Homo sapiens: one gene and its partners. The protein of the gene in region 2 purifies or fractionates together with the protein of the main gene of each other region. This does not show direct contact. Each region holds a gene or a part of one and is shown on either strand. Other genes may lie near its edges. The genes, in order: ISOC2, COA6 and MSRB2.

The links.
Region 1: the proteins of COA6 (region 2) and ISOC2 fractionate together in Homo sapiens (co-fractionation; one large-scale study listed by BioGRID). This does not show direct contact.
Region 3: the proteins of COA6 (region 2) and MSRB2 fractionate together in Homo sapiens (co-fractionation; one large-scale study listed by BioGRID). This does not show direct contact.

Annotation. Positions count from the first base shown.
Region 1 is NC_000019.10:55,455,545-55,458,775, reverse strand, and holds part of ISOC2 (isochorismatase domain-containing protein 2), read left to right. Parts: intron 1-2,286; 5' UTR 2,287-2,289; coding exon 2,290-2,427; intron 2,428-2,930; coding exon 2,931-3,140; intron 3,141-3,231.
Region 2 is NC_000001.11:234,376,341-234,379,992, forward strand, and holds part of COA6 (cytochrome c oxidase assembly factor 6 homolog), read left to right. Parts: intron 1-3,652. UniProt on the Homo sapiens protein: Involved in the maturation of the mitochondrial respiratory chain complex IV subunit MT-CO2/COX2. Thereby, may regulate early steps of complex IV assembly.
Region 3 is NC_000010.11:23,112,555-23,116,206, forward strand, and holds part of MSRB2 (methionine-R-sulfoxide reductase B2, mitochondrial precursor), read left to right. Parts: intron 1-3,652. UniProt on the Homo sapiens protein: Methionine-sulfoxide reductase that specifically reduces methionine (R)-sulfoxide back to methionine.

The DNA of each region.
Region 1 (3,231 bases), on a different chromosome or scaffold from region 2:
GGCGGGTGGATCACGAGGTCAGGAGTTCAAGACCAGCCTGGCCAACATGGTGAAACCCCATCTCTACTAAAAATACAAAAATTAGCCAGGCATGGTGGCACAAGCCTGTAATCCCAGCTACTTGGGAGACTGAGGCAGGAGAATCCTTGAACCTGGGAGGCAGAGCTTGCAGTGAGCCAAGATCGCGCCACTACACTCCAGCCTGGGTGACAGAGCAAGACTCCATCTCAAAAAAAAAAAAAAGAAAAGAAAATAGCAGCTTCTTGTTGAGTGCCCTGCCTCCCTCAGCTTCCCAGAACACCTTCTGTCTTGCCTCCAATGAGCCTCCAGGGTCTCCCATTTCCCTGGTGAATTAATGAATAAATGAGTTAAGTACAAACAAATTGTACACACAGACGGGGAGAGAGCTGCAGACAAAAGCCCAGCCCAAACCCTCACTTGTGCAGCAAACTCGGAGACCCAAAAGCACAAGCCTCCCAGGGACGTAGGCCAAGACGTGCTGATTCAGGGCCCCTGCGGTGTAGACGCTCTGACAGCGTAGACGCTCTGACCGAGTGGAAGTCAGGTGTGCCCTGTATGGCTGCAGGACTTAGGGCAGGTTAACGGGCCCTCTGGGTCGAGGTTTCCTCCCCTGCAAAAGAATTGCTGGCCAGGTGGCTTCACCAGCCTGTCCTTTTTTTCTTTCTCTTCTTTTCTTTCTTTTCTTTTTTTTTTTTAATTGTGGTAAAATGCACTTAACATAAAACTTACCCTTTCAGCCATTTGAAAATGCAGTGGAGTGGCATTCATAGTCATGCTGTTCTGCAGCCGCCACCACCAAGTCCCAGAGCATTTTCACCATCCCAAACTGAAAACTACACCCCCCAGCAGTCAACCTGAATTCCTCCCGGCCACAGCCCCTGGCAGCCAATCATCTGCTTTCTTTCTCTTTTTTTTTTTTTTTTGAGATGGAGTTTTGCTCTTATTGTCCAGGCTGGACTGGCAGTGGTGCTATCTCTGCTCACTGCAACCTCCGCCTCCCAGGTTCAAGTGATTCTCCTGCCTCAGCCTCCCAAGTAGCTGGGACAACAGGTGCGTGCCACCGTGCCTGGCTGATTTTTGGTATTTTTAGTAGATATGGGGTTTCACCATGTTGGCCAGGCTGGTCTCAAACCCCTGGCCTCAGATGATCCGCCCGCCTCGGCCTCCCAAAGTCCTGGGATTACAGGCGTGTGCCACCAAGCCCAGTCTCTTTTTTTTTTGAGACAGAGTCTTGCTCAGTCACCCAGGCTGGAGTGCAGTGGTGTGATCTCGGCTCACTACAACCTCTGCCTCCTGGGCTTCAAGCGATTCTCCTGCCTCAGCCTCCCGAGCAGCTGGGTTACAGGCACCCGCCACTGCCTGGCTAATTTTTGTATTTTTAGTAGAGACAGGGTTTCGCCATGTTAGCCAGGCTGGTCTTGAACTGACCTCAGCTGATCCGCCCACCTCAGCCTCCCAAAGTGCTGGGATTATAGGCGTGAGCCACTGCGCCCGGCCCCATCTGCTTTCTGTCTGTGGATTTGCCTGTTCTGGGCATTTCAGGAAAACGGGATCGCACGCTCCGTGGTCTTTGTGTTGAGATCTATCCAGGTTGTGGCCTGTGCAGGGTCCCCCTTCTTTCCTATGGCTGAAGAATATGGCCTCAGTTTCCTCTTGGAGCAGGGTGAGGATCAGGGTGGACCCTTCATTCAGGAGGCCCTGGGGAGTGGGCTGGCCCAACACAGGAGGACGCCCAGCAGAGCCTCCGTTTTGGGGCTGATGGTAACCAGGGCTGACAGTAACCGGGGCTGATGTAACCGGGATCTGATAGTAACCGGGGCTGATGGTGACCAGGGCGGATGGTGACTGGGGTGGATGGTAACCAGGGCAGATGGTAACTGAGGCTGATGGTAACCGGGACTGATAGTAACTGGGGTGGATGGTAACCGGGGCGGATGGTAACCGGGATCATGAAGCACTCCTTGACGTTGTGCACAGTCCTCAGCAAGGAGAACACAGGGACCAGGAGAGGGACACCCGGAGCCACGTGTGGATGTGGCCCAGAAGGCTTCCCAAGGAAGTCACCTCCCTGCCGAATAGGACAGAAATAAGAAAGAAGCCCATTCTAGGCCCGGGGAACAGCAGACACAGAGACCTTGAGGTGGGAAGAAGGTTGGCAAGGTGCCCCGGGCCCTGCCAGGCTCTGAGTGTGAGGACCTGGACGCCAGCTGGAGACACTGAGAGGAGCCCTCGGGCCTGACCCACCGTCCCTCTGCCCACCCCCAGAAAATGGCGGCTGCCAGGCCCAGCCTGGGCCGAGTCCTCCCAGGATCCTCTGTCCTGTTCCTGTGTGACATGCAGGAGAAGTTCCGCCACAACATCGCCTACTTCCCACAGATCGTCTCAGTGGCTGCCCGCATGCTCAAGGTATGACCTCAGCCCCCCACCCTCAGACCCAGGATCCAGGCTCAGCCCTCCACCCTCAGACCCAGGATCCAGGCTCAGCCCTCCACCCTCAGACCCAGGATCCAGGCTCAGCCCTCCACCCTCAGACCCAGGATCCAGGCTCAGCCCTCCACCCTCAGATCCAGGATCCAGGCTCAGCCCTCCACCCTCAGACCCAGGATCCAGGCTCAGCCCTCCACCCTCAGACCCAGGCGTCCAGGCCCAACTCCTCTTCCTTCAGACCCAGGGATCCAGGCCCACTTCCTCTTCCCTCAGACGCAGGAGTCCAGGCCCAGCTCCTCCTCCCTCAGACTCAGGAGTCCAGGCATAGCCCCTCCTCCCTCACACCCAGGAGTCCAGACCCCCAGCCCCTCCTCCCTCAGACCCAGGAGTCCAGGCCCAGCCCCTCCTCCCTCAGACCCAGGAGTCCAGGCCCAGCCCCTCCTCCCTCAGACCCTGACCTTTCTTCCCCATCACTGGCACAGGTGGCCCGGCTGCTTGAGGTGCCAGTCATGCTGACGGAGCAGTACCCACAAGGCCTGGGCCCCACGGTGCCCGAGCTGGGGACTGAGGGCCTTCGGCCGCTGGCCAAGACCTGCTTCAGCATGGTGCCTGCCCTGCAGCAGGAGCTGGACAGTCGGCCCCAGCTGCGCTCTGTGCTGCTCTGTGGCATTGAGGCACAGGCCTGCATCTTGGTGAGATGCTGACTGACCCCAGGGGTCCCTCGTTCTAACCTGGGACCCCCATCCTAAATAGAACCTCCTTCCCTGACCAGAAACCTCCACT
Region 2 (3,652 bases):
CTCTCACTCAAGCAGACTGGGTGCCATCCCCTGAGGCCCCAACCTCTCTCCAGGTCACTGCGTCCTAGTCACCGCTAACATGAATTGAGTACATCCTCTACACTCTACACTCTACACACTTGAAATGTGTCATCTATCTTATTTATCCCTCGTGGAACTCTCTTAGCGGTTTTATAGGTAAGGGCACATTGACATGAAGTCACCTGTAGTAACAGAGCCTGGATTTGAACTCAGTAGTCTGATTCCAGACCCCACATACTTCTTCCTATGCCTACCATGCAAGAAAAGGATCCATGAAAATAGCTTGCACAAGTCTCATGTAGTTCTAGAAACTGAGTTATCATTCAGGTCTACTTGAATACAAAAGCCCTGTCTCCTTGGGTCTCTTTACGGTTCTCTCACCCAGTTCCTTCATTCGCGTCTAGCAGCCGCTGCTCTTTGGAATGCCTTGCTGTGAGTCTTAAATGCCCGTGTTCATTAGAGCTCCCTTCTCTGCTACTCACTCGACCAAGGCAATCCTGTTTACAGCCATGGCTTGAAGTCCCAGCTTATGTGTTGATGCCTATCTTAGCCCAGGCTGTCATAACAAAATACCTTAGAGAAATTTATTTCTCATAGTGTTGGAGGCTGGAGGTCCGAGATCAGCATGCCAGCATGGTCAGTTTGTGATGAGGGCCCTCATCCTGGCTTGTAGACAGCTACCTTCTTGCTGTGTTGCCGAGAGAGAGAGAGAGAGAGAGAGAGAGAGAGAGAGAGAGAGATCCAGTCTCTGTCTCCTCTTTTTTTGTTTTTTTTGTTGTTGTTGAGACAGAGTCTCACTCTGTCACCCAGGCTGGAGTGCAGTGGTGTGATCTCAGCTCACTGCAACCTCTGCTGCCCAGGTTCAAGCAGTTCTCCTGCCTCAGCCTCCTGAGTAGCTGGGATTACAAGCGCCCGCCACCACACCCAGTTACTTTTTGTAGTTTTAGTAGAGATGGGGTTTCACCATCTTGGCCAGGCTGGTCTTGAACTCCTGACCTCTTGTTCCACCCGCCTCAGCCTCCCAAAGTGCTGGGATTACAGGCATGAGCCACTGCACCCGGCTCTTCCTCTTCTTATAAGGACATTAATCCCATCAGGTTAGCAGGGCCCACACTCATGACCTGCACCCAGTAGGCCTCTCCTCCCATGCTTCCAGCTTCAGTGAAAGACACCAGCATCAACTTAGGACCCGGGACCTGCGTGTCACCCTCGACTGAATTATTGGAGTGTTCTCAGGAGGGAGACTAGGTAAGTTAGGGCTGTGAGCTCAGCTGCTGTCCAGCTTCACTCTGATCCTTCTGGAAGCTCTGGAGTGTAAATTGCACCATATTTCATGGCTTTTGTGCCTGCCAGTCATTGGCATTGGCTGAGGGGCAGGTCTCTGGAGAAGGGGGCAGCCATCTGCTGTTAGCCACTGCCCAGCACAGCGGGGAGTGCGTGCATGGGTCTGCAGAGGGAATCTGGACAGAGGCCCAATAGTGGCCATTACCTCACCTGTCCAGATGCAGGCAGCATGAAGCTACCACAGCACCCCCACATGGGGTGTGTACCTATAAAACTCACCCGTAGAACCGCAGAGCTGAGTGCAAGCTCTCTGTAACCAGTCTTGCTGCCAGGGGGTGAAGGAGAGGAATGACCGTGTTCATCATCAGTTAAAGCACTTGTGTTGTCTGGGGAAGGAGTATGACAGTTAATGGATCTAGAGCGGAGACTCAGTGTTCCCCTTCTGACAAGAAAAGTACATTCACGTGTTTTGTAAAAAGCGTATTTATTAAAGTTCAAGAACACATAACCTGCCCATTTTAATGGAATGATAGAGAAAAAAAATCACCCAAATATAGATGATGGCCCTACTTCAGCTCCATGGTCATTTTTTTGGTGCATATCCTGTTCATTTAGTCATTCCACAAATATCTATTGAGCACCTCCTATGTGCCATAGGAAAATACAGCAAGGAAAAATAGACAAAGTGCTCAGCCCTCATGTAGCATACATTCTAGTATGGGGAGAGAGACAAGTAGTAGAATTAAAAGGATGTTATATGGTGATAAGTGATAGGATGAAAAATCAAACAAGGGTACAGGTTTAAGTAGGATGGTCAAGAAAGGTTTTATTTATACAGTAACTGTTTTCACAAAGTTATGAAAAAAGTTAGGGAACAGATAGGCAGATACCTGGTGAAGACGATTCCAGGCAGAGAGAATGAAACAGCCAGAAACCTGCACTGATGGGCCAGGCGCAGTTGCTCATGCCTGTAATCCCAGCACTTTGGGAGGCCGAGGTGGGCGGATCACCTGAGGTCAGGATTTGAGACCAGCCTGGCCAACATGGCAAAACCCAGTCTCTACTAAAAATACAAAAATTAGCTGGGTGTGATGGTGGGCACCTGTAATCCCAACTATTTGGGAGGCTGAGGCAGGAGAATTGCTTGAACCCGGGAGGTGGAGTTTCCAGTAAGCTGAGATTATGCCACTGCACTCCAGCCTGGGTGAGTACAAGACTCTGGTTTTTTTTTCTTTTTGAAAAAAACAAAACAAACAAAAAAAGCAACAAAAACCTGCACCGATGTGTTTAAGGGACAGTAAGAAGAAAATAGCATAAGTTAGAGCCAAGAGACGGGAGGCCAGGGAGGTACTTTTTTAATTTTTTTTTTTTTTTTTTTTTCCAGACAGTCTCACTCTGTTGCCCAGGCTGGAGTGCAGTGGTGTGATCTTTGCCATGTTGCCCAGGCTGGTCTTGAACTCCTGGACTCAAGCGATCTGCCCATCTCAGCCTCCCAAAGAGCTGGGATTATAGGTGTGAGCCACTGTGCCCGGCCATGGTTGGTGCTTTTACTCTTAGTAATACAGGAAGCTATTGGAGAGCTTTGGGTTTAGGAGTAAGGAGGGAAGTGAGGCCATGAGAGGGATGACAATCAGTAGAAAGGTGGTGGGACTGGTTGGCTGTTGGCATTAAGTCCAAGAGGGAATGTTCAGAGGTAGGGGTTGGAGAATGGGATTCTCACAATTGGAATTATGGAAGGGTTCTGTTTGTTATGAGGATAAGATATAAGCTTTGATCCTGGGAGTAAGGTAGGTTGGAGGATGAGATCATTGAAGAGGTCAAGGAACAGAGGCCATGGTATTGAAAAGATCAGTATGTGGACATTGAAATTACCCGCGAGTTTTGACCTGAGTACCCACGAGTTGTGACCTGATTATTGTTGGAAAAAATGATGGTGTATTAGTCCGTTTTCATACTGCTATAAAGAACTGCCTGAGACTGGTTAATTTACAAAGGAAAGAGGTTTAATTGACTCACAGTTCAGCATGGCTGGGGAGGCCTCAGGAAACTTACAATCATGGTGGAAGGCAAGGGGGAAGCAAGGCACCTTCTTCACAAGGCGGCAGGAAGGAGAAGTGCCAAACAAAGGGGGAAGAGCCCCTTATAAAACCATCTGATCTTATGAGAACTCACTTACTGTCACAAGAACAGCGTGGGAGAAACTACCCCGGTGATTCAGTTACCTTCACCTGGTCTCTCCCTTGACAAGTGGCGATTATGGGGATTACAATTCAAGATGAGATTTGGGTGGGGACACAAAGCCTAACCATATCAGATGGTGACCTGCAAAGTTGTAGATGACTGTAAC
Region 3 (3,652 bases), on a different chromosome or scaffold from region 2:
GGCACTTGATGCAAGTTAGTAATGATGTTTTTGTTGTTTTGTTTTGTTTTTTGAGATGGAGTCTCGCTCTGTCGCCCAGGCTGGAGTGCAGTGGCGCGATCTCGGCTCACTGCAACCTCTGCCTTCCAGGTTGAAGCGATTCTCCTGCCTCCTGAGTAGCTGGGATTACAGGCGTGTGCCACCATGCCTGGCTAATTTTTTGTATTATTAGTAGAGACGGGGTTTCACCATGTTAGCCAGGATGGTCTTGATCTCCTGACCTCAGGTGATCCACCCGCTTTGGCCTCCCAAAGTGCTGGGATTACAGGCGTGAGCCAGCGCACCCGGGCGTAATGATGTGTTCTTAAGCAATAGATCCCTCTTAGGGCTGTATACATGAATGCGCTTTTGATCCTGAGGAATTCTGGAGGATATATTCTAATTAATGAGAACATACAAATGCAGACTATATTCCTGAGACTTCTTCCTGTTCAAGAGGAGTTTTAGAAATATATTCTGGTTTTGCCTCTCATTTTCCTTCTCTTTCTGTCTCTGGTCTCCAGTCTCTATAGTAGGAAGCAGAGGTACAGAAAAAATAATTCCTTCAAATGCTTGTGTGGAGTGAAAGTGAAGGGAAAGTTGGTCAACCAAAACTAAGTAGTTCTTTTAACAAGTAAATGCAGGGCTCACTCCTTTGAGCTCCCTGCTCCAGCTTGGCTGCTTCCTGCCTGGGACTTCCCTTCATGCTGAGCTGGCCTCCTGGGATCTGCTCAGCCCCACTAATACTAATTGAAATTCCACTTATTTTTGGATCCCAGATTTCTCCTGAAACCTTCTCTGATAGCACACACCATGGGTTTTTTTTTAATCTGCTTCAAATTCCTATTAATTTATCAGTATCACACAATTTAGGACCTAATTATTCTCCTATTGGATCAAGTATTTTATTTAGTTAAGGAGATAAACTTGATTAGCTTTCGAGTCCCTTGGCCATCTTATGCTTCTTGGACAAGGCTCATGGAAGTTGTTATGGGATGAATTGTGTCTCCCAAAAAGACATGTTGAAGTCTTAATCCCTGTAAGCTGGGAATGTGACCTTATTTGGAAATAGGGTGGCTGCAGGTATAATTAGTTTAGATAAGATCATATTGGAGTAGGGTCAGCCCTAATTCCAAAATCACTGCTGTCCTTATAAGAAGAAGAGAAGCCCAGACAGAGAGGAGACAGCCATGTGAAAACGGAAGCAGAGATTGGTGATCCGCAGCTACAAACCGAAGACTGCCTACCTTAGAAGGTAGGAAGAGGCAAGGAGGGATTCCCTAGATGCTTCAGAGCCCTGTGGACACCTTGACTTTGGACTTCTATCTTCAAGATTGTGAGAGAGTACCACCCATTTTGTGGTACTTTGTTACAGCCACCTTGGAAACTAATACTTAGATGCTCCATAAGTACGTATTGATTGGTTGATTAATAATATCCATCCTGCTGCTTAGACATCATAGCAATGTTGGGACTATCAGAAGCTGTGGTTACGGGCTGAACGTGGTGACTCATGCCTGTAATCCCAGCACTTTGGGAGGCCAAGGCGGGTGGATCACTGCAGGTCAGGAGTTCGAGACCAGCCTGACCAGTATAGCAAAATCCTGTCTCTACTAAAAATACAAAAACTAGTTGGGCGTGGTAGCACATGCCTGTAATCCCAGCTACTAAGGAGGCTGAGGTAGGAGAATTGCTTGAACCCAGGAGGTAGAGGTTTCATTGAGCTGAGATTGAGCCACTGCACTCCAGCCTGAGTGACAGAGTGAGACTCCATCTCAAAAAAAAAAAAAAAAAAAGCTGTGATTATGAAATCACTGTGAAAATGTGAGGGAAGTGGCTGCAACTTCTTGAGCACTTACATGCCAGACACTGGGCTCTAGTACTTTGCAAACAATCCTCACCCTCCAATAAGGAGCTATTAAGACCCTCACTTAACAGATGTGAAAACTGAGGCTTAAAGAATTTAACTAACTTGTTCCAGGTCACTTGTCTAGTAAGTGATAGTGCAGGGATTTGGGCTCCACTGCACTCTTCTTGAGAGTGGGAAGCACCCCAGCAATGAAGGAGCCCTCTGGGCACGCGGCAGGTGCCATGCCCAGGCTCTTCATGTGCATCGTTTCGTCAGACCTCTCGGCAGCTCCCCGTAGTGTTATTATCATTCTCATTTCACGTGAGGAAACTGAGAGCTAGGAAGATGAAATAACTTGTCCAGGGTTCTGCAGCTTACAGGTAGCCAGCCAAAATATGAACCCACAGTTTTGGACTCCAGAGCCCACATTCTTCACTAGCTGAGCTTCCATTAAGCCACACGGGCAGCTCCGTTGACATAGGTGCCATCGCCTTTTGGTGCCTGCTTTCCTTATTACAGGTGTAAGTTTCCCAGAAGACATAACCAGCCTCTGAGAGTGATCCCAGCCAGTGTAACTCATGAGTTCCCTTTCCAGAGCCTTGTTCCCAGCCTCATCCACCAGACTTAGCGTCATTCTCCTCATCATCCTATAATTGTTGGAATGAGTTTGGTGCACAGTTTTGGAGAGCTTCTGCCTCTCCAAATCAGACACCTTTAATCAAAGGTGTCTGGGTCAAGAACACTTTCCAGAATGTGTTGTCACACTCCTAGGGACTCCAGACTCTCTTTCCTTAACTCGGAATGAAGTGACATTGCCCATCACTGCCACTTCCTCTCCTCCTTCTCCCTTTCTTCTTCTACATGAGCCTATTTGGAATGTGTTTATTAAAATCTATTGTGGGATCACATATTTCATGATCACAAATCTTCTTAAAATAAGAGGAAACAGAGCCTGATACTAGTTCACCTTTTACGTAATATCCTGATGTCGTATGTACCATGAGTAACTAAGTAATATTGTTAAAAACCTTCTGTATGCCCCATTCCCTCAAAGGAATAGAAATTCTTCTAAGAGGTTAGGGTTGTCAGTTATCACCAAGTGCCTGTGCTGTTGGTTTGGGACCTGTAGAACTTCCAGAAATCAAGGAAAACCAAAGCAAATAAAACGAAACAAAGTAAAAATCCCTTAGAGTATATGATTCAGAATGGTTTTAGTTCTTCAAGGGCAAACCTTACAATCTGCTAATCACTTAAATATGTATATTGGAATTTCTGATTGGCTTTAATATTTTGGTTCCCAGTCTTAACTTATATATGTTAGGCCTCTCATATTACTTGGTAAAAATCTCCCGATTCTGCTAATTGCATCAATAAAGGTTTATTGTTTCCCATAAAATGCTTTAATGAGTTTTTATTAGCCTTAGTTTCATTTATTTAAAAAATTTTATTGTATTCATAATTCTCAATCAAAATACCTTTAATGATCACTAGTTGATATATAATGTTGAGGATGGAAAGACTGGGATTAAAAGATACTTAATGATGTTTTTCCCTGAGCAGAGTGGCCAGATGAATGTTTTTGAACCCCTGGAGGAGGGTTGCAAAGAATCCGACCTGAATATGCAGACATTTCTAGTTGGACCCACAACTGCTCACATTCCATAGATTTCTGGTATTAATAATAAAAAAATATTAAAAAATAGCTACCAACTCAAGTGCCATGTGTCAGGTACTATGCTAAGCACACACACAGAAAGTGAGGTGATAATGCCATTGCTATTGTTA